Homo sapiens: one gene and its partner. The main gene of each other region encodes a partner of the protein of the gene in region 2 in a complex. Each region holds a gene or a part of one and is shown on either strand. Other genes may lie near its edges. The genes, in order: HBA2 and AHSP. A codon is read from its position in the direction of its gene.

Evidence for each region.
Region 1: the proteins of AHSP (region 2) and HBA2 are in contact, whole or in part, in a crystal structure (PDB 1Z8U), measured with the Homo sapiens proteins. Residues at the interface, in NP_001305150.1 of Homo sapiens: Glu17, Leu21, Gln24, Gln25, Asp29, Leu31, Val32, Asp36, Thr39, Val40, Asp43, Trp44, Phe47, Tyr48, Tyr51, Tyr52; in NP_000508.1 of Homo sapiens: Ser36 (codon at 1,292), Phe37 (codon at 1,289), Thr39 (codon at 1,283), Pro96 (codon at 1,112), Val97 (codon at 1,109), Lys100 (codon at 1,100), His104 (codon at 946), Val108 (codon at 934), Ala111 (codon at 925), Pro115 (codon at 913), Phe118 (codon at 904), Thr119 (codon at 901), Pro120 (codon at 898), His123 (codon at 889), Ala124 (codon at 886), Asp127 (codon at 877), Lys128 (codon at 874).

The regions. Positions count from the first base shown.
Region 1 is NC_000016.10:171,205-174,426, reverse strand, and holds HBA2 (hemoglobin subunit alpha), read right to left. Parts: upstream 1,552-3,222; 5' UTR 1,515-1,551; coding exon 1,420-1,514; intron 1,303-1,419; coding exon 1,098-1,302; intron 956-1,097; coding exon 827-955; 3' UTR 717-826; downstream 1-716. UniProt on the Homo sapiens protein: Involved in oxygen transport from the lung to the various peripheral tissues.
Region 2 is NC_000016.10:31,525,989-31,529,614, reverse strand, and holds AHSP (alpha-hemoglobin-stabilizing protein), read right to left. Parts: upstream 1,716-3,626; 5' UTR 1,653-1,715; intron 1,639-1,652; exon of another isoform or gene 1,601-1,638; intron 1,480-1,600; 5' UTR 1,476-1,479; coding exon 1,401-1,475; intron 1,158-1,400; coding exon 924-1,157; 3' UTR 812-923; downstream 1-811. UniProt on the Homo sapiens protein: Acts as a chaperone to prevent the harmful aggregation of alpha-hemoglobin during normal erythroid cell development. Specifically protects free alpha-hemoglobin from precipitation.

The DNA of each region.
Region 1 (3,222 bases), about 31 Mb from region 2:
AGTTGCTGGCAGCACAGGAAGCAGAAGACCAGGAGGTCCCAGAGGCCCTGGGTGGGGCAATTAGCTGGGAGCTCAGGGCTGGGCACACAGTGAGTTCTGAATGCACCTTACAAACTGCAGGAGACGTGCAGGAGTAAGGCCGCAAGGTGCTCTGCTGAAGAGTCTCCCCAGGTGTGGGCTGCCGGCTGTGAGCATCCCAGCCCCTTCCTCCTTCCCCACTGACTGGGCTGCTCTCAGAGGGTCACCGTGACACAGGAAGTGTGAGTAGGGCCAGCACCCTCACTCCAGCCACCTACCCTCTGGCAGGAAGGGGTGGGAATGAGAGAAATGTTCTGGCACCTGCACTTGCACTGGGGACAGCCTATTTTGCTAGTTTGTTTTGTTTCGTTTTGTTTTGATGGAGAGCGTATGTTAACTGGGTTCAACCAGGGAGATTTCAAAGGAGGGTGGCGATGCTGGGACTCCCTGAGTAGAACCCTGGATGCCTCTCTCCTCCCCAGCTTCTGAGCCACTGCCTGCAGGCCTGGCACCTCTCAGGACAGGGGATGGTTCAGCACCTTCTCTTGAGCAGGCCCACCTCAGCTTCCCCTCCCATACTCCCTGCAGTTCTCCCTCCCCAGCCCCATGCAGCTGCAGAGAGGTCCTTGGTCTGAGACAGGTAAACACCTCCATTGTTGGCACATTCCGGGATAGAGAGAACCCAGGCACACACAGGCTGCTGCCCACTCAGACTTTATTCAAAGACCAGGAAGGGCCGGTGCAAGGAGGGGAGGAGGGCCCGTTGGGAGGCCCAGCGGGCAGGAGGAACGGCTACCGAGGCTCCAGCTTAACGGTATTTGGAGGTCAGCACGGTGCTCACAGAAGCCAGGAACTTGTCCAGGGAGGCGTGCACCGCAGGGGTGAACTCGGCGGGGAGGTGGGCGGCCAGGGTCACCAGCAGGCAGTGGCTTAGGAGCTGTGCAGAGAAGAGGGTCAGTGCGGCCCAGGCCCGCAGCCGCCGCCTGCGCTACACCTCCCGCAACCCGCGTGATCCTCTGCCCTGAGAGGAAGGCGCCATCTCGCCCCTCGACCCAGATCGCTCCCGGCCCGCCGCTCACCTTGAAGTTGACCGGGTCCACCCGAAGCTTGTGCGCGTGCAGGTCGCTCAGGGCGGACAGCGCGTTGGGCATGTCGTCCACGTGCGCCACGGCGTTGGTCAGCGCGTCGGCCACCTTCTTGCCGTGGCCCTTAACCTGGGCAGAGCCGTGGCTCAGGTCGAAGTGCGGGAAGTAGGTCTTGGTGGTGGGGAAGGACAGGAACATCCTGCGGGGAGAAGCAGAGTGAGGGGTGGGGTTTGGGTCCGGGGCCAGGACGGTTGAGGGTGGCCTGTGGGTCCGGGCGGGCGAGGAGCCCGGGTCGGAGCAGGGGAGGGAGCCTCACCTCTCCAGGGCCTCCGCACCATACTCGCCAGCGTGCGCGCCGACCTTACCCCAGGCGGCCTTGACGTTGGTCTTGTCGGCAGGAGACAGCACCATGGTGGGTTCTCTCTGAGTCTGTGGGGACCAGAAGAGTGCCGGCCCGCGAGCGCGCCAGGGTTTATGCTTGGGGCGCGGGGGCACGCCCGGCCGGGCGGCGCTCATTGGCTGGCGCGGAGCCCGGGGCGCGGCCTGGACCGCAGGGGAGTCCCGGGCGGGGCCTGCGCGGGGCCGGGCGGCGGGCTCGGCCTCCCCTGGGGGTGCACGCGGGGCGGGGGCCAGGACGTCTCCACCCTCCACCCGCCACTCCACTCCCGCCCATCCCGCTCGCCCGGGGGCAGGGCGGTAGCGGCGCTGGCGGGGCCGGCCCGTTGGGGTCGGGCGCTGTCGGCTCGTGCACCCCGGAGCGCAGCGCCACCCTTTCCTTTCGGGCGCCGGAGCGTCCCTAGCGAGGGAGAAAGTCAGCCCGCACCCCCGCCCCGGCCTGGCACGCGCTGGACGCGCATCGACTCCAGCGGGATCGGGGAACACACGGGCGAGCGAGTGCGAGCCGGAGGGCTTCGCCCAATCCTGGGGCGGAGAGGAATGCGCGCACCCGGACGCCCTGGCCCATAGGAACTCAAAAGAATTTCTGCGCAGAGCCCCTCCTGCTCTCCAGCCTCGCTTCCTGCAGCTCCCTTTCCCTCTGGCGATAGTCACTAGTGTGCTTGAGTGACAGGCACCGGGAAGGAACAAACACCAGGACGCAAAAAGCACGGGGCTGGGCTGGGGGCGGCTCCAGATTCAGACTCCTCTACCCGGGGTTGTGGGGTGGCGCGTGGGGTGGTGGGTGCTGGCTAAGCCCCAAGTCATGGACTCACAGTTTGTGTGACTGACTCTCCCACTGGCCTAGAGGTCGTGGTTCACTGTGACACCCCCAGCTCTCCAAATGCTATCTGATGGAAGACTTGCTAGGTAAATACTGGTTGTAAACAGATAAACAAACTTGGCTCTGGGTAGGGAAAGGACAGGGGAGAGAAGGCCCCTGTGGTTGCAGAATGTAGGTGAGGGGATGTGGGGTGAGGAAGGAAGGGGTGGACTTGGCGAGGGGGAGGGTGGGAGGTGCAGGAGTGCCAGTGGGTGCATCCCTGCTCATGAAAAGTGATGGTTTGGCCAGGCTCGGTGGCTCACGCCTGTAATCCCAGCACTTTGGGAGGCCAAGGCGGGTGGATCAGCTGAGGTCGGGAGTTCGAGACCAGGCTGACCAACATGGAGAAACCCCGTCTCTACTAAAAATACAAAAATTAGCTGGGTGTGGTGGTGCACGCCTGTAATCCCAGCTACTCGGGAGGTGGAGGCTGGAGAATCCTTTGAACCAGGGAGTTGGAGGTTGCAGTGAGCCGAGATCGTGCCACAGCACTCTAGCCTGACGACACAGCGAGACTCTGTCTCAAAAAAATAAATACATAAGGCCGGGCGCGGTGGCTCACGCCTGTAATCCCAGCACATTGGGAGGCTGAGGCGGGCAGATGCGAGGTCAGGAGATCGAGACCATCCTCGCTAATGCAGTGAAACTCTGTCTCTATTAAAAATAGAAAAAATTAGCCAGGCGTAGTGGGGGGCGCCTGTAGTCCCAGCTACTCAGCTACTCGGGAGGCTGAGGGAGGAGAATGGCGTGAACCTGCGAGGTGGAGCTTGCAGTGAGCCGAGATTGTGCCACTGCACTCCAGCCTGGGTGACAGAGCGAGACTCCGTCACAAAAAAAAAAAAAAAAATAATAATAATAAAA
Region 2 (3,626 bases):
CTCCCCCCGCGCGCCCCCGCCCCGCGCACCCTCCCCCGGAGGGCCCTCCCCTCTGCGCGTGGAGGCTTTTCCTGGAGACTGCGCCGCGGGTCTAACACCTTCATTTCGTTTTTAAAAAGCTCTTGAGTCTGGCCCGTCCCTGGTTCCGCCCAGAGCCCTAAAATAGAGGCTTCGAGTCTGGAGGTCTGGGAGAAAGGGAGCTAGACCGGGAATTGATCTGAGAAGCTTGGGGTGGGGGGAAGGCGGATTCCTCTGCTTCCCAATCCTGGCATCTGCGCCCAGGGATGTTGGAGCCAAAGGGAAGTGGCTTCCCCTCCTGAAATATAAGGGGCGCGCTAAAGGGTTCCCAGGATCCCTTCCAACTCTAAATTCCTGCGATGCCTGGGGCTCCGGGGAGGTATTTTGCGGTAGTCAGAGTCCGAAGATCCTAGAATGTAGTTTGAGCTGGGGCTAAGGACAGGGGATTGAAAAGTCGAGGCGGTGGACCTGGCGCAGGATGAACAAGACTGGGAGACTTCCAACAGTTTCCTCCTCGACAAGCAGGTCACAGGACAATGTCTGGAGGACTTCTATCCCCCTTTCTTGTTTCTGCCACCCCCTCCCCTGCAGCTCTGCACTCTCTCTAGTCCCGCCTTCCTGGCCCTCGTTCAGCCTGTTTTAGTTTAGAATCGCTGCCCGGTGGTCACTCAAGGCTGCTAACCTCTGCTGTAAGGAATTAAGCTTCCAAGAGCATATCTAAGAAGGAGGGCGGAAGGAAAGGGACCGAGTGCCTCCACATGTCAGGACAGACCATGAAAGAGAAGCCAGGAAGTCCAACAAAACCAGCACTGGTCTTTATTGAGGTGTCAGGGTAGAGTGGCAGGAGCACAGCCTAAGGACATGAAGGTCAGAGTTTCTCAGAGAGGAGGGGCTGGGTCCCTGAGCTAGGAGGAGGGCGGTGGGTGACTCGGGAGCTCATGAGACTTCAGGAAGTCCCTGTACTTGGCCAGGAAAGGGTTGGCCAGAGTGTTCAGCTCTTGCCGAAGCTCCTGCAGAGCCTTGTCTCGCTCTTGGGGCTCCCCTGTCACCTGCTGCCTGTAATAGTTGATGTAGAAGTTCATCCAGTCCTCCACCACAGTCACCATGTCTTCTTCAGAGACGAGAGGATCATTGAAGACCTGGGGGGTTGCGGAGAGGCAGTTGGCAAGGGAGAATGTGGTCAGCAATGGGATTCGGGAATACTAGAATAGTGCCACAGCACCAACTCTCACATTCTCTTTCCTCTGCATTGTATCCCGTGTCTCTCGTTGTTTCCATCAACTCCACCATTACTTCACCAGCTCCAATTATCCTCTTCCTCCACTTCCCCGGCACCCCCCAGTCTCCAGGCCAGTCCTTTGAAATGGAAAGCTTGGACTCACCTGCTGATTCAGCAGAACGCTGAACTCCTTCAATCCTGCGGAAATGAGATCCTTATTGGCCTTAAGAAGAGCCATCTGCCTGGGTAGAGAAAAGGGTAGAATTTACATATCTGTTTCCCTCCTCACTGGGTATTTCCCCCAACCCACTTCCTCCCCTTAAAAATCCCTCCTGCCCTGCAGGGCTATCTCCTTTCCAAAACCTTTCACATCCTGCCCTGCTCTGAGGTCACGATTTTCCCAGGTTGGGCTCACCTTCAGGTCTAACAGGCTGTATATGTCTCACCCACACTCTTGAGGGTGCGTGAATCTCTCTGTGCCAAGCTATAGATGTAGGCAAGGAGTCAAGTGTCAGCCTAAGATAGAAACGCCCTGCATCTAGGTCCTGAAGGAGGGTGATAGGTCATTCTAGGGAGGAGAAGAAGGGAGAGGCTTCCCTGAAGGTAGAAAGATAACAAGGCCAAAAAAAAAAAAAAAAAAGATAAATGAGGAAACCCAGGAAATGCAAGAAGGCAAGAGCCAAACCAGGGGCATGTTCCTGCTTTTTGCCCCATATTTCAGTATCCAGGCTCGAAATGCTATGGAAATTGACGTTTACTGAGCCCTATTACATGACAGAGGCTTTTGTGTAATCACAACGATGTGATCGCAATGATTCTCCCAATTCGGAGATGATGTATTAATAGCAGCTTGCATTACATTTATTCATTTGTGCCAAGCACTGTTTCAAACATGTACAAAATATTTATCCTATAAAATTTCTTTTTAGACACATTTTGCAGATAAGCCACCTGTAAGCGTGTGGACTGAACTCCACCACGCTGTGCTCCATAAGAATGGAGATAAATAGCCGGGCGTGGTGGCGGGCACCTGTAGTCTCAGCTACTTGGGAGGCTGAGGCACGAAAATCGCTTGAACCCAGGAGGCAGAGGTTGCAGTGAGCCAAGATCACACCACAGCACTCCAGCCTGGGTGACAGGGCGAGACTCCATCTCAAAAGAAAAAAAAGAATGGAGATGGATTTGTCTTGTTTACTACCCTGTCAACAGGTACCCAATAAAGCAGAAATACTCTTTTTCCTCTTTTTAAATATTTTTCCAGATATTTTCCATTTTCAGTAGATGTTTCTCAAATTTCAAAATCACTATATACTAATTGAAATAATTAAAACAATACAAAAACGTACACTGAAAAACTGAATCATTTTTGCCCCCTCCAAAGTAACCAGCATTAAACATTGTATATTTCCTGTCACTTTTTTTTTCCATTCAAAACCCAACATTCATAGGTGCCTATACACTCATAAAGCTTTGTTGATTTGCCTTTTTGGTTGTAGCATTTTTTAATCAATATACAGCAAAACTGACTTCCTTTTGGTGTACAGTATATTAAATTTTTTTTTTTTGAGAGGGAGTCTCCCTCTGTGGCCCAGGCTGGAGTGCAGTGATGCGATCTCAGCTCACTGCAAACTTTACCTCCCAGGTTCAGGCGATTCTCCTGCCTCAGCCTCCCAAGTAGCTGGGATTACAGGCGTGCATCACCACGCCTAGCTAATTTTTGTATTTTAGTAGAGATGGGGTTTCACCATGTTGGCCAGGCTAGTCTCGAACTCCTGACCTCAAGTGATCGACCCACCTTGGCCTCCCAAAGTGCTGGGATTACAGGTGTGAGCTACCGCATCTGGCCTAGTTTATTAATTTTATAACAGATTTGTGTAACTACAAACGCAGTTAAGATACAGAATGTTTCTGTCACCCAAAAACCACTCCTTCACGTTACCCTTTTGTAGCCACCCCTACCCTCACCCATAACTTCTGGCAACCACTTATCTGTTCATCACTACAGTTAAGCCTTTTTCAGGATGTCATATAAATGGAATCATACAGTATGTAACCTTTGAGACTGACTTTTTTTGGTCAGCATGATGTTCTTGAGCTCCATCCAAGTTGTCACAAGTGTCAGTGGACACATTGCATTGTATGGATGCACTGTAGTTTGTTCATTCAGCCACGGAAGGACATCTGGATTGTTTGTACTTTGGGGCAAGTGTGAATAGAGTTGCTATAAACATTTGTGTACAGGTTTCCATGTGAACATGTTTTCATTTATATAGGGTGGAAAGTATGTGTTACCGGCCAGGCACGGTGGCTCCCATCTGTGATCCCAGCACTTTGGGAGGTCAAGGCAGGCAGATCACTTGAGGTCAGGAGTTCGAGACCATCCTGGCTA